Linked DNA regions of Homo sapiens. The protein of the gene in region 4 interacts with the protein of the main gene of each other region in a biochemical or structural test. Each region holds a gene or a part of one and is shown on either strand. Other genes may lie near its edges.

The links.
Region 1: of the proteins of OTUD3 (region 4) and HNF1B, one has a biochemical effect on the other in vitro, tested with the Homo sapiens proteins (one study listed by BioGRID).
Region 2: of the proteins of OTUD3 (region 4) and FOXN1, one has a biochemical effect on the other in vitro, tested with the Homo sapiens proteins (one study listed by BioGRID).
Region 3: the proteins of OTUD3 (region 4) and CGAS form a complex in vitro, tested with the Homo sapiens proteins (one study listed by BioGRID).

Annotation. Positions count from the first base shown.
Region 1 is NC_000017.11:37,686,047-37,693,080, forward strand, and holds the end of HNF1B (hepatocyte nuclear factor 1-beta), read right to left. Parts: intron 1,347-7,034; coding exon 1,326-1,346; coding exon of another isoform or gene 1,234-1,325; 3' UTR 385-1,233; downstream 1-384. UniProt on the Homo sapiens protein: Transcription factor that binds to the inverted palindrome 5'-GTTAATNATTAAC-3'. Binds to the FPC element in the cAMP regulatory unit of the PLAU gene. Transcriptional activity is increased by coactivator PCBD1.
Region 2 is NC_000017.11:28,523,327-28,530,360, reverse strand, and holds part of FOXN1 (forkhead box protein N1), read right to left. Parts: intron 6,421-7,034; exon of another isoform or gene 6,406-6,420; 5' UTR 6,392-6,405; coding exon 6,269-6,391; intron 5,859-6,268; coding exon 5,394-5,858; intron 5,180-5,393; exon of another isoform or gene 4,800-5,179; intron 4,789-4,799; exon of another isoform or gene 4,216-4,788; coding exon of another isoform or gene 4,189-4,215; intron 3,114-4,188; coding exon of another isoform or gene 3,111-3,113; coding exon 3,000-3,110; intron 1,268-2,999; coding exon 1,137-1,267; intron 1-1,136. UniProt on the Homo sapiens protein: Transcriptional regulator which regulates the development, differentiation, and function of thymic epithelial cells (TECs) both in the prenatal and postnatal thymus.
Region 3 is NC_000006.12:73,442,264-73,449,297, forward strand, and holds part of CGAS (cyclic GMP-AMP synthase), read right to left. Parts: intron 3,485-7,034; coding exon 3,265-3,484; intron 1-3,264. UniProt on the Homo sapiens protein: Nucleotidyltransferase that catalyzes the formation of cyclic GMP-AMP (2',3'-cGAMP) from ATP and GTP and plays a key role in innate immunity.
Region 4 is NC_000001.11:19,878,574-19,885,394, reverse strand, and holds the start of OTUD3 (OTU domain-containing protein 3), read right to left. Parts: upstream 3,001-6,821; 5' UTR 2,882-3,000; coding exon 2,661-2,881; intron 2,243-2,660; exon of another isoform or gene 1-2,242.

The DNA.
Region 1 (7,034 bases), on a different chromosome or scaffold from region 4:
ATTTACCCGCAGAGTTTTCATTCATCCTACTTTTTGTCTGTTTCTATCACATGTCACCCACCAAGAATTGACTCTATGACTTTACCCCTGTGAGTTGCAGGGAAGAAAAGGGTGCTAGCTCCTGCTCTGGCCAGATTCCCTCTGAGCGACTTGTGGAGTCTTACTGGGGGATTCAACTCTTCTTCACCTCAATCAGCAGTAAAGCCTACACAGACACTGGGAGCATGACGGCAAGAGAAGGCCACCCACCTCTCTACACCCCTAGATGACACACTACAGGATCCCAGTGGAGTATACAGAAAATTCCAAGGAGACCAGGGGCCAGGGGTTCTCGGTGGAACCATGGCAGGGAAAGTATCAGAGACAGAAATATGAGACTCTGGGTAGTGATAAAATAAATTGTTTTAATGGAAGGCTTTCTGAGACTGCAACTTTTTCTTCTGCTATCAAACAGCCAGTTTCCCTGCCCTGGGGTTTCTTAGGGAGTGCACGGCTGAGCTCCTGGCCCACAGGAAGCTGGCATGTTACTCTGACACACTACATTCAGCCCCTCCAGGGATCCAGAGGTGTGTCTTAATGTCAGGAGACTGGAGTTAGCTGGTAGTCAGTCCAAGGTATGCTGTCCCCATAAGTGTCCAGGCCCGCGGGAGAGGACAAGGGGCTTCACTTCCCACTTAGGATGTTTCTCCATGAGGGGAGAGGGGACAGATCACTTTTGAAATTTTGACTCTGACCTTTACAAAGAAAACTAATAGACACTTTAGTATTATATACAGGGCAGAGGGGAGAGGACACAGAGGGGAAATTGCACTTAATTACAGTAGTTTATAGTTTACAGCCATTGGACAAATTTACTTCTTTAAAAGAAATCTCAAGATCATTTGGGATGGGGGCAGGGGAGGGAGTCTGTGGATATTTACAGTGTGTTTGGCTCAGTTCAATAGCACATGTCCTTCTCTCCTCATTTCAGTAACAGATTCAAGTTTTCGCATCAGTTTGTTCGATGAAGGATCACAACATAGACAGTACGGCTTTCTTGCTTCCTCTTCGGAGGTTCCTTGTCTCCCACCTCCAGGACAGACAGGAGTCCTTGACATCGTGGGAGAGGCATTGTGGCAATACTGCATAGAAGGGAAACTGGGCTTCGGGCTGCGCCTCCTGAGAGTGGATTGTCTGAGGTGCCAGCAGGACGTCCGTCAGGTAAGCAGGGACCTCTCGCAGGTGCTGGTCAGGTCACTGGGCTTTTCCATGACAGCTGCCCAGAGGGTGATGGTGTGGAAAACAGGGTCCTTGTTGTTGCGCACGAAGTAAGTGGTGTGTGGGCATCACCAGGCTTGTAGAGGACACTGCAGAGAGAGAGGAGAGAGGGTGCTCAGCTGTGTCATTTGGCAGGGTCATGGGCCATTAGTTTGGCTTCTCTAAGGGAGATGATGCCCAACTCAACCAGCAAAGAGCAGCAGGTGGAGGGCTGGGGGCCTCGTGTCTGCTCAGTTCTGCAGTTTTCATGCTGAGGCACACTTCCTGCAGGAAAACCCGGGAGCCGGCTTTCCTGGCCACTTCAGAAGAAAGAAGTGAATTGCTGGGGACCTTGAAGTAGTCTTAACTTGCTGACCTGAATCCTGAAGCTGGGCTCCTCTTTCTGTGACAGTGGCATTTATAGAGTGCTTAGTGTACTTGAAAAGGCAGCTGGATGGTGAGCTCTTGCCTCTCGTGGAAGCAAGGGTCTCTTCCTAAGACCGCTAAGAGCAGAGGCCTCCTATACTAATGCTTCTCGAACTTTAACGGACCCACAAGTACCAGAGAGCCTGTGAAAATGTGGATTCTGGTTTAATTCTGACTTGTAGGCCTGGGGTGCACCTAAGAGTCTGCATTTCTAACAAGTTCCCAGGGTGTGCCAGTGCTGCTCACCTAGGGCAGCAAGGCCAGAAAGCACACGAGAAAATGACCACTCAAACTACTCATCAGGAAGGAGCTTTGCAAATTGCAAAGTGCTTTCTACGGGTTTCTTACTTTAGCATAAGAAACTCAGAGGACCAGGGAAAGGATCCAAAGGCTGAAGGCCTCTGATGCCATCCTTGTGGGTGGGCCAGGGCAGGAGACCCCAGAATGGCTGGAGAAGCCCTCGAGAGAAGCCACCTCACCCAACTCAGGGCAGCCTTGCCCTCCAGTGCCTGGGCCTTATTCATTTGAACTGTCATGGAGTGTCACTGCTTTCCTTTTCACTTCTGGGGAGTCTCTTTTTGTCTCCCTGTGTCTCCTCCTTCCCTTTTGCTTTTGCCGGCATCTAAGGTTCTGCCTTTGACTTAGTGGCTTATTCTCTCAAGATCCCCCCAAACACACACACACACACACACACACACACACACACACACACACTTACACCTACCAATACCACTAAAGGCCACTGTTATCGCATTGATCAGTGCTCCAACCATAACCCTATATGAGGATACCATTATGTCTATTTGACAAATTAGGAAAACAAGGCTAAAAGAGAGTCAGTGAATTGTCCATGGTTTAAGAACTAGGAGAGTGTGGAGCCACAGCTTCAAACTAGCTGTCTAGGTGGCCACTCAGCATGTGCTCTTTCAATCATGCTTGGAGGTGAGGAGCCTTCTACTAAGCTTTGTGCTCTTGGACAAGTTACTCTCTCTGTGCCTCAGTTTCTTCCCCTATAATATGGGAGTTGTTGTGTGATTAGATGAGTCAACACCTGTGGAGTCCTGAGCATGGTCCTTGGCACAATTGTTATTATTAACATGGGGTTCTTCGGCCCAAGCCCCTGCTGCTCCTCAGTACTCTTAAGAGTGGGGCTGAAGGCCTGGCGCAGTGCCTCACGCCTGTAATCCCAGCACTTTGAGAGGCCAAGGCAGGTGGATCACAAGGTCAGGAGATCGAGATCAGCCTGGCCAACATAGTGAAACCACATCCCTACTAAAAATACAAAAATTAGCTGGGCATGGTGGTGCACACCTGTAGTCCCAGCTACTTGAGAGGCTGAGGCAAGAGAATCGTTTGAACCCAGGAGGCGGAGGTTGTGGTGAGCCGATATTATGCTACTGCACTCCAGCCTGGGCGACAGAGCAAGACTTGGTCTCACAAAAAAAAAAAAAAAAAAAAAAAAGAGGGGGGCTGAGCAGTGCGTGCATGTGAGGAGACAGGCTTCTGACCCTTCCACATTCTTGAGACGTTGGTCAGGGTCCTCTGATACCCTTTGCCTCCTCTTCCTCCCCTGGCCCACCCCCACTCTCAAGTCTCTTTACTTCCCACTATCAGCCTTTTTCCAATTTTCAGATTTCAGGTGGAGGAGAGAGAAAACGGCTTGTGACCTTGCAGGTTTCAAAAGAAGAGCAAACAAGAAGGGCAGATAAGGAGACGCCAGTGAGATTCTATGGCCTGTCATTAGGGATGGGCTTCCCAGCTATCAAATGTTTGCTCACATAATAAAATGGTGGCAGAGCCCAAAATGTTGTCAAAAGAACTAGAGTTATTTGCCTCCTTCAGAGTCTAAACACAAACATCTGATAAGGGGTGCACTGTGGTCCCTTAGAACTGGAGGCCCAGCACACGCAGCCCCACGGGGGCCTGGCCCAGAAGATCTCTGAGAGACCGCGGGGCCCTCCGTCTGAAAGGTGTGGTAGCTGTGGCAAATGTGAAGGACATCCTTATTCTAAGAGGATTTGTTACATAATGGTAAGAGCTAACATTTATCGACATCCTACTGTGTGCCAGGCACCATACCAAGGGCTTCACAAGCATCACTGCCTCGAGTTCTTACGTCGACCCTTTGAAGTAGGTGATTATCGTGAATTCATTTAACACGTTTGAGTGCCTACTGTGTACTTGGCACTTTTTTAGACACTGGAGATGCAGCTGTAAACAACACCCTGCCCACTTCTTCACAGGCTTTACCTCCTAGTGAAGGCTTTGAATAATAAACAAGTAAACAAATGCGTGCACACACACACACACACACACACACACACACACACACTACAACTTTAGGTGGAGATGAGCACTCCATAGAAAAATAAGCATAGAGGTTAGGGCAGCTTGAGGAAAAAGAGATTAACTTAGATATGGGAATCAGGCGAGGCCTCTTTGAAATGGTAACATTTGAGCTGAATGAAGTGAAGGGGCAAGCATGTAAAAATGCACAGAAAAAAAGAGCTCCAGGCAGACACCACAAATGCAGGAGTCCTGGAGTGGGATCTCTTCAGCCCTGGCACAGCTAAAGCTGAGCGGGTGATGGAGGGAGGAAGGAGGTGAGAACGGCGACACTGGCAGGGGCATAATCACATAGGGTCCTGTATGTCTCTGTTTTAGTTTGGTTGTGATGGAAAGCTATTGGAGAGTTTTGACAGGGGATTGACATGCTTGATGTCTCTTTGTAAGAGATCACTCTGGCGAACAGCCCCCAGTGGGGCAAGGGTGGAAGTGGGAGACAGGCAAGGGCCACCTAAGGAGATCAGGGAGAGACAAGGGGGCCTGGGCTGGGACTAGGGCAGTCCTGATGGGAGTGTGAGAAGAGGTCAGATTTAGGATGTATTCTGAGGGTCCCCTAGTAGAACTTATTGAGAGACTGATGTGATGTGGAGAGAAGAATCAGGGATACTCTCAGCTCTCTCACTTGAACAACTGGTACCAGTTTTGGAAATGGAGAAGCCCATGGGGGAAGCAATTTTGATAGGATGAAATAGGGCAAAATGAAGAGTTCCTATTTTAGGCACGTTGAATTCAAGAGGCTTATTAGATATTTTAGACATGCGTCTGTCCCTGCCGAAGCAGCACTGGATCTGTGAGTGAGCACTCAGTAGGGAAGACCGGACTGTACACAGAATTACAGGAACCATCGGCGTGTACACTTGACCTAAAGCCATGGGACTGGAGGAGATCACCCAGGAGTGAGCACAGATGAGAAGAGGCCAAAGAATGAGGCCCGGGGCCCTCCAACACATAAATATTGGGAAGATGAGTTGCCAGCTGAGGAGATGAGAAGTGGCCAGTGCCGTAGAAGAACCAGGAATGGTAGTATCCCAAACTCCCATGGAAAAAAGGAGGGAGAGATCAGCTGTGTCAGAGACAGAGGTTGAAAAGTAACCATTGGTTTCAGCAGCATGGAGGGGATCGTGAGCTGGACACAGTGAGGCGTGAGGATAAAGGCCAGTCTGCAGTGATCTCAAGAGAGAATTGAGGGTGAGGAAGTGGAGACAGTGAGGACAGATAAGTCACTTCTATGACCATGAACTTATGTGAGATTCATTGTGGCTCCATTAATTAAAAGTCATGATTATAATTCCGGTTTTACAGATGAGGGAAGTGTGGCCTGGAGAGGTGATAAGTAAGTTGGCCGGGGTCTCACAACAGCAAGGCTTGTGCTCTTCACCCCTATGTAAGAGCACTTCTTTCAACCCCCTCAACACGGGGAAATAAATGCCCTTTGCCACGTAAGACCCTTTTCCCAAACTCAGAGCCGCTCAGGGGTGCTAGCAGGGGAAGCCAAGAGTGACCCAGCTTCCATGGGCTGGGTGTTTCCTTTGGGACATGCGCTGAGTGAAGTATTTTACAGGTCTTCGTGCAGTTAGTCCTTTCAGTGATCCCATGAAAGAGGTATCATTATCTTCATTTTACAGGTGAGCAAACAGAGGCTCAAAGAGGCTAAGACATTTCTCTGAGGTCACACAGGTAGAAAGTGGTAGAATGTTGAGCCCAGATCTGCCTAACTCCCAGGTCGATGCTCCCAACCATCAGAACACTCTGCTTCCTCACCCAGTGAAGAAGCTGGGAGAGGAATAGCCGAAGGGGATAGATGATGAGGCCACCCACCTGCCCCCTTGTCAGTGCCCTGACTAGTTACTGCTCTGGGGGCCCTCTCTTCACCTTCCCATAAACTAGGAAGTCAAGCAGCGGGGAGAGAACACTGTGGAAACAGGAGTTGGCTCACAACCTGCCTGCACTTGTTCTAACTGAGGTCAGTGGTTGCTGTGGTCTTGTTTCCAGACTAGCGGGGCATTGTTGAACTCAGGCACAAACCCACTCAGAGATAACTTGCCAGCACCCAAGAGTTGAGAAGGAGGGAGACGTATGTGCTCTGGAAGGGACAGATGGCAGTAGATGCAGAAGGATTCTTGGCGCGAGAAGTCCCAGCCTGGGGTTCCTGACCTGTAATCCCCAAGGCCCTTGGGGCATGTCTGCCTTGACAACAGGAAGTACTGGGATCAGACAGATACAAGTACAAATCCTGGCTTTAGCCTTATACCTGCATAACCTTGGGTTGTTATTATGGGTGCTTAAAAGTGGATATTGGAAGATGAACGTTGTTTAATGAGTTTGGAGTGAGAAAGCCAGTCTGGAAGTCCAGCTCTGGAATTTATGATCTGTTTGAACTTGACCAGATCCATACCCATCTTTGAACCTCAGTTTTCTGCTTTGTAAATCAGGTATAAAAATAACGACCTTGCAGAATGGGTAAGAGGGTTCTCCAGGAAATGTAAGCTAGAAAAGCATCTGGGGTGCTGCTTGGAAAATGGAGGCATCAAAAAACACGGGTTCTGCATTCATTCGTTCGTTCGTTCATTCATTCTTTGTTATTTACTGAACATCTAATATAGCCCAGGCATTTGGCTAAGCCCAAAGGGTATGGGTGCTTTGACAGGCCCTGAACTATTTGCTTTTTTCCTGGGAAATAGGTGAGCAGGGAGTCTGTGTATCAGCAGGAGAATGGGAAACAGGGATCCGGAGCCCAGGCCCAAGAGGTAGGATGTGCTTGAGAGATGGTAGTAATCCTGAGACATTTTCTTCTCCCAGCCTCCTTTGACTGCATGTAGACCAAGCACTGAATTGGATATTGAAAGAGTCACTAGGCCGGGTCCAGTGGCTCACACCTGTAATTCCAGCACTTTGGGAGGCAGAGGCGGGCAGATCACGAGGTCAGGAATTTGAGAGCAGCCTGGCCAACATAGTGAAACCCCGTCTCTACTAAAAATACAAAAAATTAGCCAGGTGTGGTGGCCTGTGCCTGTAGTTCCAGTTAC
Region 2 (7,034 bases), on a different chromosome or scaffold from region 4:
CCAATTGCATGAATGTTGGAGAGTAGGGAGGGAACTAAGGTTTCTTGAGCCTATGCAATGTACCAAGCACAGTACCTACATTCTCTTACTTAATCCTTCCAACAGCCTGAACTGCTACCCCAAACCCTGACATTTTTTTCTTTTGAATCTTAAAAGTCTTATATTTTTATTTTTTTTATTATACTTTAAGTTCTGGGATACATGTACAGTACGTGCAGGTTTGTTACATAGGTATACCCGTGCTATGGTGGTTTGCTACACCCGTCAACCCGTCATCTACATTAGATATTTCTCCTAACGTTGTCCCTCCCCTTGCCCCCAACCCCTGACATTTTTTTTTTTTTTTAAAGAGGAATAAATAGAGGCTCAGAGAGATTAAGTAACTTCCCTGAGGTTTCATGCTGGTCAGTTCCACAGCTGGTCTTGAACTCATTTCTGCTGGACTCCAAGAGCTGCGTGTATGTCTTTCAGTGAATGATCCTGCCTTTCACAAAGCCCTTCTCTGCACTCCTGGCTGATGCTTAAGTTCCTCTCCCTTCCCCTCAGCTCACACTAGCTGATGACCCGATCCCATGTAGGGCCTGACACATATTTGGCCAAGTGTCACTGTTGGTTGGATGAATGAAAGGACAGATGGAAGGGTCTCCCAGACAGGCTGGGTCTGCTGACACTTAAGAACCCAGCCCCAGAGAAGTCCCACCAGATCTGGCAGATGGTGGATAGCCGAGTCACATCTGCAGGCCTCATCCCCCATTTCCTTCCAGTAGAGCTTTGAGGGGGGCTTCCGTCTGTTTCCGGGGAGGCACAGGGAAGGCAGCAAGCATCCCCCTTAAATTCTCAGATCCAGGCCCTGGGCCCTAGGAGGTGAGACCTTGGCAGGCTCATCACATGGCACCAGCATCTGCTGAGTCAAGTCACAGACATGACTCCCCAGGCTTAGACAAAGGGTCAGAGCTGATCCAGTCTATGCCCCTGCCTTCATGCAGGAACCCTCTCTCCAGCATCTTCTGGAAGCCCACTGGTATGATTTCCACCTGCTGCCATTACTGGTAGACCCAGAGGATTCCATGCCTCAGTGTTCCCAGGGGCCCTCTCACTCCCCTCCTCCTCCCATCCCTGGAGAGTGGGAAATGTACCTGTAGGAATAGATGGGTTTTGGGAAGAGAGGCTGGTGCCCATCGGTGCTGGCCTGGGGTGCCATTCGCTGGTACTGATAGTGTGAGGAGCCCAGGTAGGGTATGGGGTAGCTGCCACCACCTGGCGAGTACTGAGGAGGTCAAAAGGGGCAGAGTGATTGCATGGTACCCAGCCTTTCCCAGGAGGGCCCTCCTCCCCATTTATATACATCCAGAGAAGGGGCTCAGGCCAGATTCTTCCCTCCTGGGTCATGGGCCCCATCACCCCCAAAGCAGAGCTGTCTGAGGGGCTGTGAGGAGATCCACACCCTGTAATTCAGGATCTCAGAGGCCTTAAAACCCTCTTCCTCCAGCTCCTTCCTCTCAGCCCTTTTGATGCTCTGGTTGCTATGGTGACGGGACCCTGCAGGGAGAGTATGAAGTGAAGCCCTCGGCCCCTGCACCCTTCCAGGAAGGTGCTCCCAGTGCCTGTGCATCTCCCAGAGCAGCTGGGCCGGAAGCAGGATGTCCAGCCTGGGCGTTTGCTGGGCACTGCCACCTTTTATGAGTTTCAGTGGCTCTTTGAAAGGGCCAGTCATGGTGGTGGACAGGTCGGGGTAGGAGGTGGTTTTACGGCAAAGGGAGTGGCTGCGGTGCCACGGATGGTGTTTTATGGGGGATGGGGGTAGGAGACTCTGACTCCCCCAGCTGCTCCAGGCTGAAGAGCTCTTTCCAGGTTACCCAAGAGACATTTAGTGCCTGAGTCACCTCGGTCCAGGCTCCATAAAGCCCTGGGTGTGGCCATCTTGAGAGGGGGTGCAGACTGCAGAGGCCATCAAAGCAGGGCCAGGCATGGTGAGGTCATTTAAGGTCTGGTGGCCCCTTAGTCCTTCTGTGGCTCAATCTCTGTCCCTGCCTCAGGGACATCCTCTACCCTGGGTCAGACCATGAGCCTCAGGATAGCTTCGGTCATTCCACCCAGGCCCCTCATGGCAGAGAGGATGTCCTCTCATGCCTTCTCTTTGCTTCCCTCTATCTCTTTCTTTTCCCTGCAAAGCCAGCAGTCTGACCCAGCCCCTCTCCCTTGCCTTCCTCCCTGGCTTGGCTGAGATCAGGGCCAGTGCCAGAGAGCCGGGTGCAGAACCTGCTCCACAGGCAGGGCCTGTCTCAGTGCCAGGCTGCAGGTGGATGGAGCTGGGCGCTGGGCAGCCACTTGCTCTGTCTTGCCTGGTGACTCCTGGGAGCTGCCTGGCTGCTCTGGGGCTCTTTTCTTTCTCCTTTAAAACTCCTCCATCCCATGCCAGTGTGGGGCAATTACTTGGCATCCTATACACTTGGGAGGAGCTGAAGCTGGGAAAGGAGGAAAGGGCTGAAGATGATGGGGACTTGGAGTCCTCTGGGTGGGAAGGTCCCCTAAGCCCACACTGGGTGCCCACCCTTTCTAGGCTAATAGAAGTTGGAGGCCAAGGTCACATAGCAAGATGGTGGCTGACTATACAGAAGCCCTTGTTCCTCGACCTGCTCGGCCTGTGTTTCACACCACACTCCTCTTTGCCCCTCTCTCTGTCTGGGGCAGCTCTCCTCCTTCCCCCATTTCTGGCTCACATCACAGCCCTGCCTCCATCTCAGCCCCACACTCTTATCTGAGGCCTCTCAGGCCTTGCCAGGGACTCAGACAAGCCCACCCCTGGAGGAGGGCAATTGCTTCTCTTCCCATTAACTATTCCCGCCACCTGCTGTGGCCAAGCCTAAGGTTCAGGGCCCTGCTGTCCTTATCTGCCTATCCTGGTGAACACATGCCATCACATAGACACCCACACACCACATACACACACACGATATCCTCAGACCTGGGGGAAGCAGGCCCACTTGCCCCAGACCCACCTGGTGGAAGGGGGGCTGGGAGGAGCAGTACATATGCTGCAAGGGAGGCTGGTAGCAGAACATCCCAGCACCACTCTCCAGAACTGGGGGCTTGACTTTGACCTCTGAACCCTGCTGGAAGAGAAAGCAGATGACTAGATTAGGCCTTATTTTCTCCCTTCCTCTTTCCTGTGTCTTGAACCTTACATAAAAGCAACCCCTATTCTGCTTCCCCCAAAGCTTATTCCTGGAGAACAACAGAGAACAGAGAAGGGCAGAGATTTTCCCAAGGGAACTCAGCAATTTAGTGGTAGAGCCGGGGCTGGAACTGACAGCAGTCCCTACGCCTCCCCTCACGGCAGGGGAGAGGCTGAGGCTGGGCTGTCCTGAGAAGTCAGGGAGACTTGTGCTGGGGTAGGGACAGGGATCTTCTGGAATAGCACAAAGGCACGGTGCTGACCTCACTCGACACGCCTGACTCAGAGGTCTCAGACCCTCTGAGTAGGTGTGCAAAGGACACCAGGAAAAGGTCACAGCTCCAGAACTCTCCCTGAGGATCCATGGTGAGGGGAGCATGGGTAGTGGCCAGACAGGCTGGTCCAGCTGTGGGCCTGGGTCCCTTCTGTTTCCTCCTCTGTACAGCCCCAGGAAGCTCCAGCAGGATCTCTGAATGGGGCTAGTAACTCCTCTCCGCTCTGACTCCTGGCCATCCCTGATGCAGAGCTTTTGCTCCCTGCTCCAGGGAGTCTGCACAGTTGCTGGCCTGCGTGAGTCCTGTGGATGCTCTCACACTGGGCATGGGGAGCCTGCAGCTGCTGCTAGCCATGATGGCCAGACTCCGCCTTCCCATGTGTGAGAGGCCGGCACAGAGTCCCAGGGCCTAGTGCAGAGCTCTCCGGTGAGTACGGACAGGAGGGTGTGCAGCTAGGCCCCGGAAGGTGGACAAGCCCTGGAGGAGGCGGATTGCACTTCCTGGGGTTACCAGGGGCCTTGGGAAACCAGCATCTGGGCCCAGAGGGGCAAATCAGCTGTGACCTCTCTCTGGGTGTGCCCTGGGGTTGTTGATGCAGAGATTGCCATAATCATAGAATCTCGGGCCTAGAAGGGCCAAGAGCACTTGTGTCCAACCCCTTCATTTGACAGATGATGGGGCTGAGCCCAAAGAGGGGAAGCAATATGCCCAAGGTCACCCAGCAAGTCGACCAGATACCTGTGTGTCTCTGGAGCTCTTCTCCATGTGTGGGAGGGCAAGGGTGTGAACTCAATCTCAGCCTCACCATTTGCAGGTTAGGAGACACCCTGGGCAAGTCACTTGGCCTCTATGAGCCTCAGTTTCCTCATCTGCAACACGGGTATGGTGGGAACTCTCTAGAGTGTTGTTGAGGGGATTAAATGGGGGCACTTGAAAGAAAGCACCTGGCAGAATGATTGGCAGCTGTTATTGAGTGGAGGTTTGGGGGCAGTAGCTGAGATGATGGTGCCCTATCTGTAGGCTGTGGTCATGTTTAAGGGGCCTGAGAAGAAGTGGTCAAAGGGCCAGAATAAAGTCCTGTTTTGGCCACACCTGGTAGGACCCAACCGCCTTCTCCATCTTCCTTCTAAGCCTTTGTTGGGGTGGCTTGGGGCTGGAATGGGGGCCTGTTTGAAAGCAAGAGGTGAGGGGGGCTGGTGGGCATGTGGAGTAGGCACTGCTGAGGCTACGCCCACTCAGTCACTGCCTCAGGGACCTCCAAACCAGAGCGGGGGAGCAGGGAGCAAATTCCCTTTAGCTTTTATCTTCCCTAAGCAACAATCCCATGAGACAGGTAATGTTGACCTTACTTTTCAGATGAGGCTCAGAGACGTTAAGACTTGTCCAGGGTCACGCCGCTTATGGAGGTCAGGCTATGGAAGGACATGTTAACCTTCCAAGGTATTTCCAGGAATACACCCAGGCCCCACTCTGGGCAAAGAATGGGGCCAGGAAGGGTCCCTCCACACTTAAAGTCCTCTCTCAACTCTGTATGCTAAGGCTGGGGAGGGAAAAACTGTGTACTATGGCTCCTCCCCAAACCCTTTCCCTTGGCCTCTGGAATGTGTTTTTCTTGTCACATTTGCATATGGGTGTGTAGGTCTGGCTGGAGTTTCTGGACATTTAAACAAACAGTGAGAAGTCACACACTGGAATCCTGACTCAGGAGCCTCTGGGAAGCTGCCAGCTTCTTTAGCCTGGCCTACCTCCCCCACTTGCCCCCCTCCATGCTGGCCAGGCCAACACCCCTCCCCAGCTGACCAGGAGGCCCCAACTCTCTGGTCTTGAGTGGCAAGGTCTGCAAAGAGAAGGTGGGACTTTGGTCTCAGAGGTCTGACTCTTTCTAGGCTGCTAGGAACTGGGACAGTGGGAAGATGGGACACTCGCTGGCCACTAGTACTCACCAGGACTTGGGGGCCATGCTCCTGGCTGGGGTAGGGGAGCCCGTTACACCAGGCCTCTGCTGAGAAGCCAGGCAGGAAGGCCTCGGCCTCCGCCACGTCCACTGGGATCTCCTCGAAGGCCTCCAGCGGCCCTGGGGTCTTAAAGGAGTGTCCTTTGAGGGCCAGGGTGGTCTCGGCCTCTGGGAAGACGTCCTCATGGAAAGGCCGCTTGTACGGGTGGAAGGGCGCGTGGCTGCCCTTGAGGAATCGCCCAGGGCTGCTTGCTGCGGCCTCCTCAAAGCCAAAGCCAGGATACTTGTCTGAGGGTGAGAGCCTGAAGGGCCCAGGGCCGGGGCCGGCTGGGCAGTGGCCCTGGACTTGCTCGGGCCCTGGTGACGCAATGCGGGGGCTGTGTGGGGGCAGTGAGGGTGTCCTCTCTGGAGGGCCGTCGGACACAAATGACGAGCAGCTGAAGCCGGCATGCTTCTGGGTAGACAGAGAGTAGCGAGCCTGTGAGTGGAGGCTGAACCAGGCCTGGGGACTGGCTGGGACCCTACTCTGTTCTGGGGTAAAGGGGGTCTATGGCTGAGCTCTGGGAAGACCCTAAATGGTGGAGAAGAAATAGCCTACCCTTGGCCCCGATTTCATGAGGGCACCCTGCCATGAAACCTGGGGTACCCCAAATCTGATGGGGCTCACAGCCCTGGGACAGGCTCAGACTGAAGGGATGAGGAGTGACCCCTCTGGATCTCGGGGTCCCTGAGGACTTGTTTGCTGGTGGAGGGGACAAGACAGGCCCTGGGAGGTCCCTGGGGGCGGTAAGGTGACTGGTCTTCTTGTTGCCTGGGCAGCCGCAGGCCTTGGCCTAAACCCAGGCCCAGATGCCGGGTACTTACACTCTGTGGGGCAGGGGAGCCTGGGAGGCCCGGTGCCTGCATGAGGTCCCCTTGGCGCTCGCCCTCCAGTCTGGTGGGGCCCGGCAGCGTGACGTCAGACTGCGGCGGGGGTAGCGACACCATCACCCAGTCCTGGCCTCAAAGAAAGCCGTCTGCCATGAGAGTGAGGACCAGCATCCAGTGGGGACCAACCCAGGTTCGCCACCTCCACCCCAACCCCATCCTTGGGCTGGGACCCTGCCTCCAGTCAGCCATCTGATGAGAGAGAGAGAGAGAGAGAGAGAGAGAGAGAGAGAGAGAACCAGAGAGCGAGAGAGAGAAAGAGAAATAGTTTGGAAAAGCAGAGCAGAGAGATCAGACCCCTGTGGAGAAAGGGCAAAGTGAGCCAGGTAGGAGCCTCAGGAGGGGCTTGGCTGATCTCAGGCTGCAGCTGCAGAGACTGACCGACTGACCAGTGAAACCCCGGCTCCCAGCTGGGCTCTGCCTCTGGCTCCTCAAGATCGGTCTCCTGTGTCTACAGAGAAGGGCCTGGCAAGGTGACCACAGCAGGTGGTCTCCATTCAGTGACTGGGCAAGTCGGTGGTCCTGAGGGGAGAGTGAGCTGGTGCGTGGGTCAGACTCATGCTTGGGGTGGGAGCAACCCCCTCCATGCAGGTGAGCCAGCCCTCAGCAGAGGCTGGTCCTGCAGTGACCCTCAGGTCAGCCTGGCTGATGTGACCACAGTGTGTAACTGGGGACCCAAAGGCCCCCGGTTGCCTGGAGGCCC
Region 3 (7,034 bases), on a different chromosome or scaffold from region 4:
TCTCCTACATCAGCCATCTCTCCCTCCCTGCTAGATTATTCTGAAATTCATACAAAGGGTTATAGGGTATACCTCTCCTTTCACCCCACATCTTCCTCCTCTCCATACTCACCCATCTTTCTGCTTCCTTCCAGCCCAAACTTTTTTTTTTTTTTGAGACAGGGTCCCGTTCTGTCACCCAGGCTGGAGTGCAGTAGCGTGAACATGGCTCACTGCAGCCTCAACCTCCTAGGTTCAAGCAATCCTCTTGCCTCAGCATCGTATGTAGCTGGGACCACAGGCACATGCCACCACTCCTGGCTAATTAAAAAAATGTTTTTTTCTTTTTTCTTTCTTTTTTTTTTTTTTTTTTTCTGAGACAGTCTTGCTCTGTCGCTCAGGCTGGAGTGCAGTGGCGCAATCTCAGCTCACTGCAACCTCTGTCTCCCAGGCTCAAGCAATTCTTTTGCCTCAACTTCCTGAGTAGCTATGATTATAGGTGTCTGCCACCACGCCTGGCTAATTTTTGTATTTTTAGTACAGACGGGGTTTCATCATCTTGGCCAGGCTGGTCTTGAACTCCTGACCTTGTGATCCGCCCACCTTGGCCTCCCAAAGTGCTGGGATTACAGGCATGAGCCACCATACCTGGCCTAAAATTTTTTTTTGTAGAGATGGACTCTCACTTTGTTGCCCAGGCTGGTCTTGAACTCCTGGGCTCAAGCAATCCTTCTGCCTTGGCCTCCCAAAGTGCTGAGACACCACAGTTAGCCCAGACAGAACTTTCTAGAGTGGCCTACACATGTTATCTCCACTGCAACCCTGCCTTTTCACTCTGTGTCCATCACCCCACTGACATTTCTCTTGTCAACCCCACAAGACCAAAGAACAAATCCATTGGATTTCTGGATGTCAGTAGCATTCCAAACACTGACCGCTCCTTCTACAAAACACTCATAGTCTCCTTTTGTTCATTCTCTTCTTCCCAAACTCTTTTTTTTTTTTTTTTTTTTCTGAGACAGGGTCTCACTCTGTCGCCCAGGCTGGAGTTCAGTGGCGCGGTCTCAGCTCACTGCAACCTCCGCCTTCTGGGTTCAAGAAATTCTCTGCCTCAGCCTCCCAAGTAGCTGGGATTACAGGCACCCGCCACCACGCCCGGCTAGTTTTTTGTATTTTTAGTCAAGACGGGGTTTCACCATCTTGGCCAGGCTGGTCTTGAACTCCTGACCTCGTGATCCACCCGCCTCGGCCTCCCAAAGTGTTGGGATTACAGGCGTGAGCCACGGCGCCTGGCTCTTCCCAAACTCTAATGGAATTCTCTTCTTACCACTCTACTTAACATTGCAACTTCCCCCCCACCTCCATCTCCCACATTCCTGATCCCTCTCACTTTGCTATACTTCTTCACAACAGCACTTACTACTTTCCAGTATACAAGATAATCATTTTTTCCATTTGTTATTAATTGTACGTCTGTGCTTGCAAGATAAAGCTCTTAATCTAATAGCGTAATAACATACAACACAAATTGCAGTGAGTGCTCTGAAGGGAATAAACTGGGAAAAGTGATAGCAATTAGGGTGGAATGGGGTGGTGGAGCCAAGCCCTGAGGCAGAAAAAAAGAGCTTGGAAAGATCTAGGAACAAAAAGAGACTCTTTCGGAAAAGATGAAGTTATATGAAATGAAGCTGAAGAGGCAGCCAGGGACCAGATTCTGTACTGACTTGTAGACCCTGAAAAGGACTTTAGATTTCATTTTATTTTTGAGACGGAGTCTTGCTCTGTCGCCCAGGCTGGAGTGCAGTGGCACGATCTCGGCTCACTGCAACCTCCACCTCTCGGGTTCAAGCGATTCTCCTGCCTCAGCCTCCCGAGTAGCTGGGATTACAGGCATCCACCACCACGCCTGGCTAATTTTTGTATTTTTAGTATAGATGGGGTTTCACCATCTTAGCCAGGCTGGTCTTGAACTCCTGACCTCGTGATATACCTACCTCAGCTTCCCAAAGTGCTGGGATTACAGGTGTGAGCCACTGCGCCTGGCCAGATTTTAATTTAATTTAATTTAATTTTATTTTATTTTGAGATGGAGTTTCGCTCTTGTCACTCAGGCTGGAGTGCAATGCCCCGATCTCGGCTTACTGCAACCTCTGCCTCCCAGGTTGAAGCAATTCTCCTGCCTCAGCCTCCCAAGTAGCTGGGATTACAGACATGTGCCACCACACCCGGCTAATTTTTGTATTTTTAGTAGAGATGGGGTTTCTCCATGTTGGCCAGGCTGGTCTCAAACTCCTGAGCTCAGGTGATCCACGCACCTCAGCCTCCCAAAGTGCTGGGATTACAGGTGTGAGCCACTGCGCCTGGCACCAGATTTTATTATCTGATCATTGAGAAGCCAGGTTTTCATCAGAGAGTAATGACTGGCTTTGTATTTTAAAACATTTACTCTGGCTTCTAAGGACAGATATTATAAGAAGGCAAATAGGGAGATTAGAAAGGAAAATGATGTAATAGTTCAGGTAAAAGATGGTGGCAGCTTAGGTGGGGTGGGAGTAGGGTGCTGGGATTGAAGCAGCAGACAGGTCCAAGCTGTAGCAGCACTTGCATCTGGATTAAGCGTAGGGGGTAACAGAGAGGATTAAATTAAGATGGTTCCCAGGTTTCTGGATGGTGCGTCTGGGTGGATTGATTGTGCCATTTTCTGAGATGGGAAGGACTGAGGCAAAACATAGTTTGGTATATGAATTAAGTTATGTTTATTCGCTTTGGATATGTTTGGTTATAGATTCCTGTGGTACATCAACATCAAAGTGGATATGTTAAGGACGTAGCTGGATATAGGTTTGGAGTGCAAAGGATATATTTGGGCTGCAAGTAAACATTTGGGAGTCATCATCATATAGGTGGCATTGGGAATGGATGAAATACCTAGGCAGAGAGTGTAGATTCATTTATCCATCAATTTAATAAATATTCATTGATTATTTCATATAATTTAATCATTTAATTTAATCAATATTCATTGATTATCTAATGTGTAGGTGTTCTAGTTATTTAGGATTCATTAGAGAACAAATAGATAAAGACCTCTACCCTTCTGTACTTTATAATCTTGTAATCATATTATAAGTAATTGCCAATGTACACTCCTCTACTGATGTTTCTTGACCTCTCTACTGCACTTTTTCTTACTGCAGAGAGGTCAAGAAACATGAGAATGGGAGTGTACATTGGCAATTACTAGGTATAATTAAACCTTTAAGAATCAAAAGGCAAAAGTCTTACCTTTAATGTCGTTAATTTCTTCCTTAATGATTTTCCTAAACTTTGACAGCATCTTAGAAGCTGATAATATTTCACCTTCTAAAAACTGACTCAGAGGATTTTCTTTCGGATTTCTTTTAAATTTCACAAAGTAATATGCACGAGTGTTGGAATATTCTTCTAGTTGAATTCTGGGGACTTCCAGTTTAAACATGACATCAAATTCATTAGGTGCAGAAATCTAAGAAACAGTAAAAATAGTACTGAAATATTTGCTTATGAATATTTTCCAAGTGACTGGAACTTTTTAAAAAATTTCCACTTAAAACTTTACTTTAAAAAGCAAGATTCATAATGTCTATATATACCCTCTGGGAGTGGGACTAGTGGAGCTGGCAGGAGGTGGAAGAGTATTACCAGTTTCATTTTGTAGGTTCTACACTCAATTAATTTTTTTTACCATGACCTAGTATTATTTTTATAACTAAAAATGATTTTAGGCCAAGTGCAGTGGCTCACACCTATAATTAAATTTTGTGGGGCCAGGTGCAGTGGCTCATGCCTGTAATCCCAGCACTTTGGGAGGCCAAGGCGGGCGATTCACCTGAGGTCAGGTGTTCGAGACCAGCCTGGTCCAACATGGTGAAACCCCGTCTCTACTAAAAATACAAAAATTAGCCGGGCATAGTGGCATGCGCCTGTAATCCCAGCTACTCAGGAGGCTGAAGCAGGAGAATTGCTTGAACCTAGAAGGCAGATGTTGCAGTGAGCCAAAATAGTGTCACTGTACTCCAGCCTGGGCAACAGAGCAAGACTCCATCTCAAAAAAAAAAAAAAAAAAAATTTGTGTATGATATGTGGTAGGGAATCAAGGTTCATGTTTTTCCTACATAGATATCCAATTGACCCAGCATTATTTATTGAAAAAAAAAAATCGGGCCGGGCGCGGTGGCTCACGCCTGTAATCCCAGCACTTTGGGAGGCCGAGGCGGGTGGATCATGAGGTCAGGAGATCGAGACCATCCTGGCTAACAAGGTGAAACCCCGTCTCTACTAAAAATACAAAAAAAAATTAGCCGGGCGCGGTGGCGGGCGCCTGTAGTCCCAGCTACTCGGGAGGCTGAGGCAGGAGAATGGCGTGAACCCGGGAAGCGGAGCTTGCAGTGAGCCGAGATTGCGCCACTGCAGTCCGCAGTCCCGCCGGGGCGACAGAGCGAGACTCCGTCTCAAAAAAAAAAAAAAAAAAAAAAAAAAAAAAATCGTCCTTTCAGCCAGGCGCGGTGGCTCACGCTTGTAATCCCAGTACTTTGGGAGGACGAGGCAGGCGAATCACAAGGTCAAGAGATCAAGGCCATCCTGGCCAACATGGTGGAACTTCGTCTCTATTAAAAATATGAAAATTAGCTAGGTGTGGTGGCATGCACCTGTAGTTCCAGCTACTCAGGAGGCTGAGGCAGGAGACTTGCTTGAACCCGGGAGGCGGAGGTTGCAGTGAGCCGAGATGGTACCACTGCACTCCAGCCTGGGCGACAGTGCGAGACTCCGTCTCAAAAAATAAATGAATACATATTTTAATCAGTTTGTCAATTTAATTTAAAAAACTGATCATATTTCAACTGATTGCATTAAATCTAGAACAATTTGAGGAAAAATGAACACGATATAGTTGTCAATTACTTCCTCTTCAAATTTACCCAGTTATGTTTTTAAGTTTTGAATATCTTTAGTGATATTTATTCCTAAATATTTGATTTTTAAATTGTTTTTCAAGTTTTCAGTTTTTTGTTTTTTTTTGAGACAGAGTTTCACGCTTGTCACTGAGGCTGGAGTGCAATGGAGCAAGCTTGGCTCACTGCAACCTCAGCTTCCTGGGCTCAAGCAATTCTCCTGCCTCAGCCTCCCAAGTAGCTGGGAATACAGGCGCGCACCAACACGCCCAGCTAATTTTTGTAGTTTTAGTAGAGACAGGGTTTTGCCATGTTGACCAGGCTGGTCTCAAACTCCTGACCTCAAGTGATCTGCCTGCCTCTACTCCCAAAGTGCTGGGATTATAGGCGTGAGCCACCATGCCTGGCCAAAGTTTTCAATTTTTATTTTTTAGAGATGGGGTCTCTAGGCTGGAGTACAGTGGCTACTCACAGATAGATCATAGTGTACTGCAGCCTCAAACTCCTGACTTGATGTGATTCTCCCACCTCGGCCTCCCAAATAGCTGGGACTATCAGAATGCACCAATGGACCTAGGTTTGATATTTTTGATGATATTCTAAATGGTATTTTCATTTTGTTTTTAATCTTGTTAGTATATTGAAATATTTTTATTTTTGTTTATTGACTTTGCAACCAGCAATTTTGCTAATTTACTAATTATTTCCAACAGTTTATATGTGAAGCCAATCAAGTCATCTACACATAACGATTTCATCACTCTTTTTCCCATCTTATGCCTTTATTTTCCTTGTCTTGCTGCATCAGCTGTATGTATTCCTTTACGTTCTTTTTGTTGTTGTTCAACATTATTTATGTAATTCATTTTCACTGTTCATGTTGCTGTAGTTTGTTCCTTTTCTTTACCAGTTAATATACCATTACTTAAAACCACTGGCCGGGCACAGTGGCTCACGCCTGTAATCCCAGTACTTTGGGAGGCTGAGACGGGTGGATCACCTGAGGTCAGGAGTTTGAGACCAGCCTTACCAACATGGAGAAACCCCATCTCTACTAAAAACACAAAAAATTAGCCAGGCATGGTGGTGCATTCCTGTAATCCCAGCTACTCGGGAGGCTGAGGCAGGAGAATCGCTTGAACCTGGGAGGCAGAGGTTGCAGTGAGCTGAGGCCACCCACGCCATTGTACTCCAGCCCAGGCAACAAGAGTGAAACTCTGTCTCAAAACAAAACAAAACAAAAAACAAACAAACAAAAAAAACTACAATTAATTGATTTCTATGTAACCTTTTCACTGAGTCCAAACTATATAAATAGTAAAGTACATTAACACTTAGAATGAAAAGAACATATGGACTGACAATTCTACAGGGAATTTCTACAAGAAACTTCCCATGTATTTTCGAGATTTTTTTTTACCTAGAATTTGTAGTCCCAGGTAGCTGGGACTACCTGTGTGTGCCACCACATCCAGTTAATTTTTAACTTATTTTTGGTAGAGCTGGGGTCTCACTATGTTGTCCAGGCTGGACTCAAACTCCCGCCTCAGCCTCCCATGGTGCTAGGATCACAGGCATGAGTCCACTGTACCTGGCCCACATATATCTCATAATCAGTAATAGAAAAAGTTTTAGGCTGGGTGTAGTGGCTCACGCCTGTAATCCCAGCACTTTGAAAGGCTGATGCAGGTGGATCACTTGAGGTCAGGAGTTCGAGACCAGCCTGGCCAACATGCTGAAACCTTATCTCTACTAAAAATACAAAATTAGCCAGGTGAGGTGACGCCCGCCTGTAATCCCAGTTACTCTGGAGGCTGAGGCAGGAGACTCACTTGAACCCGGGAGGCGGAGGTTACAGTGAGCCAAGATCACATCACTGCACTCCACCCTGGGTGACAGAGCAAGACTCCATCCCCAAAAAAAAAGAAAAAAGAAAAAGAAAAAAAGAAAAAGTTTTAGATAAAACAAATTTCACTGGATTTCTTTTCATTGGCATAATTTTTAAAAACAAAGTGGTTCTGGGCTGGGCATGGTGGCTCCCACCTGTAATCCCAGCACTTTGGGAGGCCAAGGCGGGAAGATCATGAGGTCAGGAGATAGAGACCAGCCTGGCTAACACGGTGA
Region 4 (6,821 bases):
CTGTCATCACCACATTCGAAAGGACTAGGATACTGACGAGGGCTGAACCACAGTCCAGCTAATGGAACTCATGTGAAGAACTTGTGAACAGAAGGTGGTTAGCTCCATGAAGCCCACACAAGAGGAAATACGATCATTTTATCTAACACTGTCCGAATAACAGGAACCTTGGAAGAGAGACATGAGCACTCCAGTCAAGCTGGTTTCTGGAGCCTAGCTTCACTGCCCGTTACTTCTACCCTTGTGCCCTACACTACCCGTCACCCTAAACAACCTGTAGATCTCCCAAAAACATCGTGTCCTTGTGCCTCTATATATACTCCTTCTCAGATGGGACCGTTCTCTTGGTGTACTCCTATTGGTCCTTCATGACCCAATCAGAGCATGACACCCTCTGAGAGGCATCTAGCAGTGTATCCAATGAGTATTTACCGAATGAACGAGAAGGACTTCCTGGCCAATTCATAGAGTAGTAGCCTTTTCCTTCTCAATAGTACCATTATAATCAGTCACTGTTACTAAAAATATATCAAACTATATTTTAATTATTTGTATCATCTGTTCTCAAAGTGTGACTCAAGGGACCGGAGATGTGGGAAGGTCTCTGATATGCTTTCAGGGTATCCGTGAGTTCAAAACTAAGATGTAATGTACCTTTTTCATTCTCATTCTCTCACAAGTGCAGTGGAGTTTTCCAGAGGCTACCTGATGCATGAAGTCATCACTCTGATAGCTAATGGAATGTGTGTGTATTCTTGTGTTTTAACTTTGTTTTACTTTCTAATACAGTAAATACTCATAGCTATAACCCATATAAAGTTCTTTCGGTTTCTCAGTAATTTTTAAGAATGCCAAGAGATCTTAAGACCAAAAAAGCTGAGACCCACTGTTACGTGTTTCTACCTTAGGCTATGAAGTCCTTAAGTATCTTAGTCATCAACATATTCCCAGCACCCTACTTAAGGTGTGCTGAATTAACTTGAAAAGTATGCTGTGTGTGTATGGGGGTGTGGGGATAGGGAGCAGAAGTAGTACCCCCAAAGTTTCCCATAACCTTATGAAAGCCCCCTCAAGAGTTTACAACTCCCTGTGCTAATTCCTCCTCATAAGTAACCTTCTATTGAGTACTTCAGTTTCCTGGGCACCCTGACATTGAGAATACCATACCCAGTATAGCAGACACAAGCAATCCAATCATTTGCAAGGAAAAGCCCCAATGTCCCACGCCAATTCCACTGTATTCAATTGGTATTTCTGTTTCTATAAGGGTGTCTTGGGCTTATGCTTAGGCTAGCTGACCTCCCTCTATTATTTTTATATTTCATTCAGCAAAAACGTACTGACTGCCTTCCATGTACCAAGCACTTTGCCAGATGATGGTGAATAAATGTAATCAAGTTCCAACTGCATCTTAAGCAAAAACAGCAACGCAGCAAAGTGTGGTGAACTCTTTGTGAGCAAAAAGAAATCCAATCTGCCTGAAGCAATGAGCATAAACAGGAACGGTGGGAAAGGGAAATTAGGACCAGTTCACAGTCTTAATCAATAAGCTGCAATGTAATGTGAAAATTTTTAAAACACCTTATTCTGCAGTTAATATCTAAGGCAATTCCTGGCCGGGGGTGGTAGCTCATGCCTGTAATCTAGGCACTTTGGGAGGCCGAGGCAGGAGGATCGCTTGAAGCCAGGAGTTCGAGACCAGCCTGGGCAACACAGCAAAATCACCGTCTCTACAAAATAACAATAATAATGAACTAAGGCAATTCCTTATGGTCTTTAATTTCATTTTAGTCTTCCCTCTGCAGGATCTGAGCACTCAAATACGGGGAGGAAAAAAACAAAAGCCAGGCTGTTATTAACACTCTCTCTTCCAAAGTGACACAGCTGACAACCAGACCCCTTTTTACCTGCCCCTGCAATGGGGATCCTAACTGTTCTCCCCTCTTCCTGACCCTTTTCCTTCTTCCATCCATGTTCCTGGAGCCATATCCCCTTTCTTGAAGCTAATTTTCTTCCTCCTCCCCACTCTCCCCCTCCGCGTTCCCTAAAGAAAGCTGGACCTGGATCCAGTCTAAGTCCCAAGAAAGCTTGGGGAAGCACCTTTGCTTACAGAGAAACTGAGGCCCATGGAAGGAAGAATTAGAGAAGCTGCCTTCAGCTCAGTAAACAGGCGACCTAATTTCACAAATGTAAATGGGGGCACCACCCAAAAACCAAGGACTCAAAGGAGGCAAAGCGTTCTACCAAGTGGGGCTTACTCAAACTCCTTCAACTGGTCTTATCGTCATGATAACTGTTTTTCCAATGCCTGGCTCCATCTCATTCCTTCAGAACTCAGCTTAAATGTCACCTTTGAGAGAGCCCTTCCTGGCCACAATCCAGTGGCCCTGCTCCCATATACGGTCTCAGCACCCACTTTCTATTTCGCTCGCGGCGTCTGCCATGATTAGGACCCTTTGGGATCCCCGCGAGCGTCTCGGGGCGAGGGGCTTGTCCGCCTCACTCGCAGCTGGACGCCCTGCACTCGGAGCGTGGCTGGCTCGCGGGAGGCGCCCGGGCCGCCCGAATGAATGGATGGATGGACGCGAGCGGGCAACGGTCGCCAGGCCGAGCCCGGCGCGTCCCCCGGCGCCGCCTCCCTCGCTCCCGGCCCGCCTCACCCGTCCCCCGGCACCTCCCGCAGCTTCAGCCCCAGGGCCTGCAGCTGGTTGGCGAAGCTGACGAACTCCTCCTCGCAGCCGCCGCCGCCGCCAGACTCCGGCCGATTCCGCCGCTCCTTGGCCAGGGCCCGGCGCGCCGCCCGCTCGTCCCGCTTGCGCTCGGCCTCGGCTTTCCGGCTGCCGCTGCCCGGCCGGCTCTTCGCCGCCTGCTTTCGGGACATGGCCTTAGCCTGCAGTCCCCAGCGGCAGGAGGGAAAGGCGCAGGACCCCCCAGCGTCCGCCTCAAGCGTTGGGAAGGTAAAACAGCGCGGGCAACGGAGCCCGGCGACGACTACGCAGCAACCGCGCCTGCGCCGGCGCCCAGCACCCCGGTCACATGATGGAATCCCCGCCTCTTTTGCGGGGCTCGGCGAGCAGACGCCATAGAGAGCTGGAGGGGCACCCATCTTGGTTTGTTCTATTCCGCCCTCTAGTGGTGGATGGTACTCAACGTGAGTGGCAGGAGCGACCGGAGAGGGACCAGAGAGAACAAAGCAGGAACAAGTCAAGCAGAGAAATTAAAGATGATAGAAGAGTGGAACACAGAGCAGCGGCAAAAGTTAGGACCGGAGATGAATAAAAACGATTTAAACTCTTGCTGCGAGCCTACTACAGTTGGATAGGCACTTTCACACGGCTCATTCTTGTTTAATTATCCCCAAATTACAGGAAACTGAATCTGAGTGGTTAAATAATTTCAAGATCACACAGCTAAAAGGCAGAGCTTTGCCCTGGCTCCAAAGCCCGCATACTTGTTTATTTAATCCTGCCCTTCATCTCTCCGCCTTCCTTCGTAACTCAAGGGAGAGGTCGCCCTTCTGTCCAAGACCACTGGAAATCCTAATTCCATCCTAGAGCGACCCACCTAGGTTTGCCTGGACTAGAGGTTTTCTTGGGATGCAGGACTTTCCGTTTTAAAACTGAGACAGACCAGGCTGGGCGTGATGGCTCACACCTGTAATCCCAGCACTTTGGGAGGCCGAGGCGGGCTGACCACAAAGTCAGGAGATGGAGACCATCCTGGCTAACACTGTGAAACCCCGTCTCTACTAAAAATACAAAAATTAGCCGGGCGTGGTGGCGGGCGCCTGTAGTCCCAGCTACTCGGGAGGCTGAGGCAGGAGAATGGCATGAACCCGGGAAGCGGAGCTTGCAGTGAGCCGAGATTGCACCACTGCACTCCAGCCTGGGGGACAGAGCGAGACTCCATCTCAAAAAACAAACAAACAAAAAAACAAAAACAAAAACTGAGGCCAGGTGCAGTGGCCCACGCCTGTAATCCCAACACTTTGGGAAGCCGAGGCCAGGGGATCGCCTGAGGTCAGGAGTTCGAGACCAGCCTGGCCAGCTGGCCAAGATGGTGAAACCCCATCTATATTGCGTGAGGCTGAGGTTTGGAGTACAAATGAATCTGTCACCCAGGTAGTGAGCAAAGTACACAATACACAATAGGTAGTTTTTCAACCCTTTCCCCCAACTGCCTCCCGACTCTTGTATTCCCCAGAGTCTATTGTTCCCATCTTTGTGTCCATGTGTATCCAATGTTTAGCTCCCACTTATAAGAACGTGCAGTATTTGGTTTTCTGTTTCTGCCTTAGTTCACTTAGGATAATGGTTTCCAGCTGTATCCATGTTGCTGTTCTCCCCTCTTCCTGGACATGATTTTGTTCTTTTTTATGGCTGCATAGTATTCCATGGTGTATATATACCACATTTTCTTTATCTAATCCACTGTTGATGCGTACCTGGGTTGATTCTATGTCTTTGCTATTGTGAATAGTGCTGCAGTGAACATACGGGTGCATCTGTCTTTTTGATAGAACGATATATATTCCTTTGAGTATAGACCCAGTAATGAGATTGCTGGGTCGAGTGGTAGTTCAATTTTTAGTTCTTTGAGAAATCTCCAAACTGCTCTCCACAGTGGCTGAACTAATTTACATTCCCACCAACAGTGTAAAAATGTTCCCCTTTTCCCCACAGCCTCAGCAACATCTGCTATTTTTTCTTTTTAACAAAAGCCATTCTAACTGGCATGAGATGGTATTTCATCGTGATTTTGATTTGCATTTTTCTGATGACAATAAGAATGCAAAAGAGAGTTGTAAAGATTAAATAAAAATGTAAAGCCCCAGGCATGAAGTAAGTACCTATTTAATGAAGTTGTTTGAATCAGTTCTCTGGAAATCTCATGAGCTCAGGGGCAAAGACTTTCAAACTTTAGAAACCAGGGAAGAAAGGTTTCTCACCAGCAAATAAGTAAATACAGACTGCTAACATATTGATAGAAAAGCGAACACTTGCCCGTCTTGTAAAAATCTTTTTGGCTGGGCGTGTGGCTCACGCTTGTAATCCCAACACTTTGGGAGGTGGAGGCGGGCGGATCACCTGAGGTGAGGAGTTCGAGGCCAGCCTGTAATCCCAGCTACTGGGGAGGCTGAGGCAGGAGAATCGCTTGAACCCGGGAGGCAAAGGTTGCAGTGAGCCGAGATTGCGCCATTGCACTCCAGTCTGGGCAACAAGAGTGAAACTCCTTCTCAAAACAAAAACAAAAACACAAACAAAAAATCTTTTCTGGCATAAGCCCTTAGCCTTTAGCCCACACACAGATTTTGAATGGGCGAATTTCTCTTCTCAGCGGAGACCTGTGTTAGACAGTGTCTCTAAGTGCAAATCAATGCTGCCTATAAATTATATTTAAAGGCCAAAGGGAAGGAGTATAGTACTTGTAAATAAAATGAATGCTCTGCCCACTTCGCTAGAGTTAATTAAAAGAATCATTGACCCGCACAGTGGCTCATGCCTGTAATCCCAGGACTTTGGGAGGCCAAAGTGGGGGTATTGCTTGAGCCCAGGAGTTCAAGATCTGCCTGGGCAACAAAGTGAGATTCCCCATCTCTGCAAAAAAATTTTAATTAGCTGGGCATGGTGATGCATGCCTGTAGTCCCAGCTATTCGGGAGGGGCTGAAGTTGGAGGATCACTTGAACCTGGGAGTTTGAGGCTGCAGTGAGGTATGACTGTGCCACTGCACTCCAGCCTAGGTGACAGAGCAAGACCCTGTCTCAAAAATAATAATAATAGTAATCAAACCTCATTGGATGGCAGTATAAATTAGTAAAAAGTGTGACTAACAGAATTTTAGTGAAGAAATGCAGCTTTAGGACTTTCAAGAACATACCATCAAGGGTATGGGAAAATGAGAACTCTCGCACACTGCTGTTGGGAGGTAAATTTATCTAGCCACTTTGGAGGGCAATTTGGACTGTATCTGGTAACTTTGGGGTTTTTTTTGTTTTTTTGTTTGTTTGTTTGTTTTGAGATGGAGTCTTGTTCTGTTGCCCAGGCTGGAGTGCCGTGGTATGATCTCGGCTTACTGCAACCTCTGCCTCCCGGGCTGAAGAGATTGTCAGAGATTCTCCTGCTTCAGCCTCCAGAGCAGCTGGGAATACAGGCACACACCACCATGCCCAGCTAATTTTTTTTTTTTTTTTTTTGTATTTTTAGTAGAGGCGAGGTTTCACCATGTTGGCCAGTCTGGTCTCGAACTCCTGATCTCAGGTGATCCGCGTGCCTCAGCCTCTTACTGTGCTGGGATTAGAGGCATGAACCACTGCACCTGGCCTGTATCTGGTAACATTTTAAATGTCTAGTGTCTACATCTCGTGATCTATCCTAAAAATAGAAATATTACATCTCCTCCTAAACTCCTCGTGTGTATCCGTATTCTAAATTTTCCTCGTGCAAGACGATGAACCCCAGGGTATATACTCCGGACAATGTAGCTCCTTCAAAAGTACACTCTCAGACGCAGATAGTCCTAAAGCAAATTACATGCACGTGCACTAGAAGGTATGTCCAAGTGTTGGCAGTTGGCCCGTTCAGGTTCTTGACTTAGCCACGTAAAAGAATTTGAGAGTGAGTCCAAAGTACTCCAAAGAGCAGGCAAAGAAGTTTATTGCAAAGCAAAAGTGATACAGGAGTTAAGAAGAAATCGCGTAGGCAGATAGTAAGGGCATGGGAGTCCTCGGTAAGGCTTTTCTTTTTAATGAAAAGCAGCCCCAAATCATCTTCTAACAGAGTAGCCTGTAAAGTGGAGCTGCAGACACAAACAAGCTGGGAG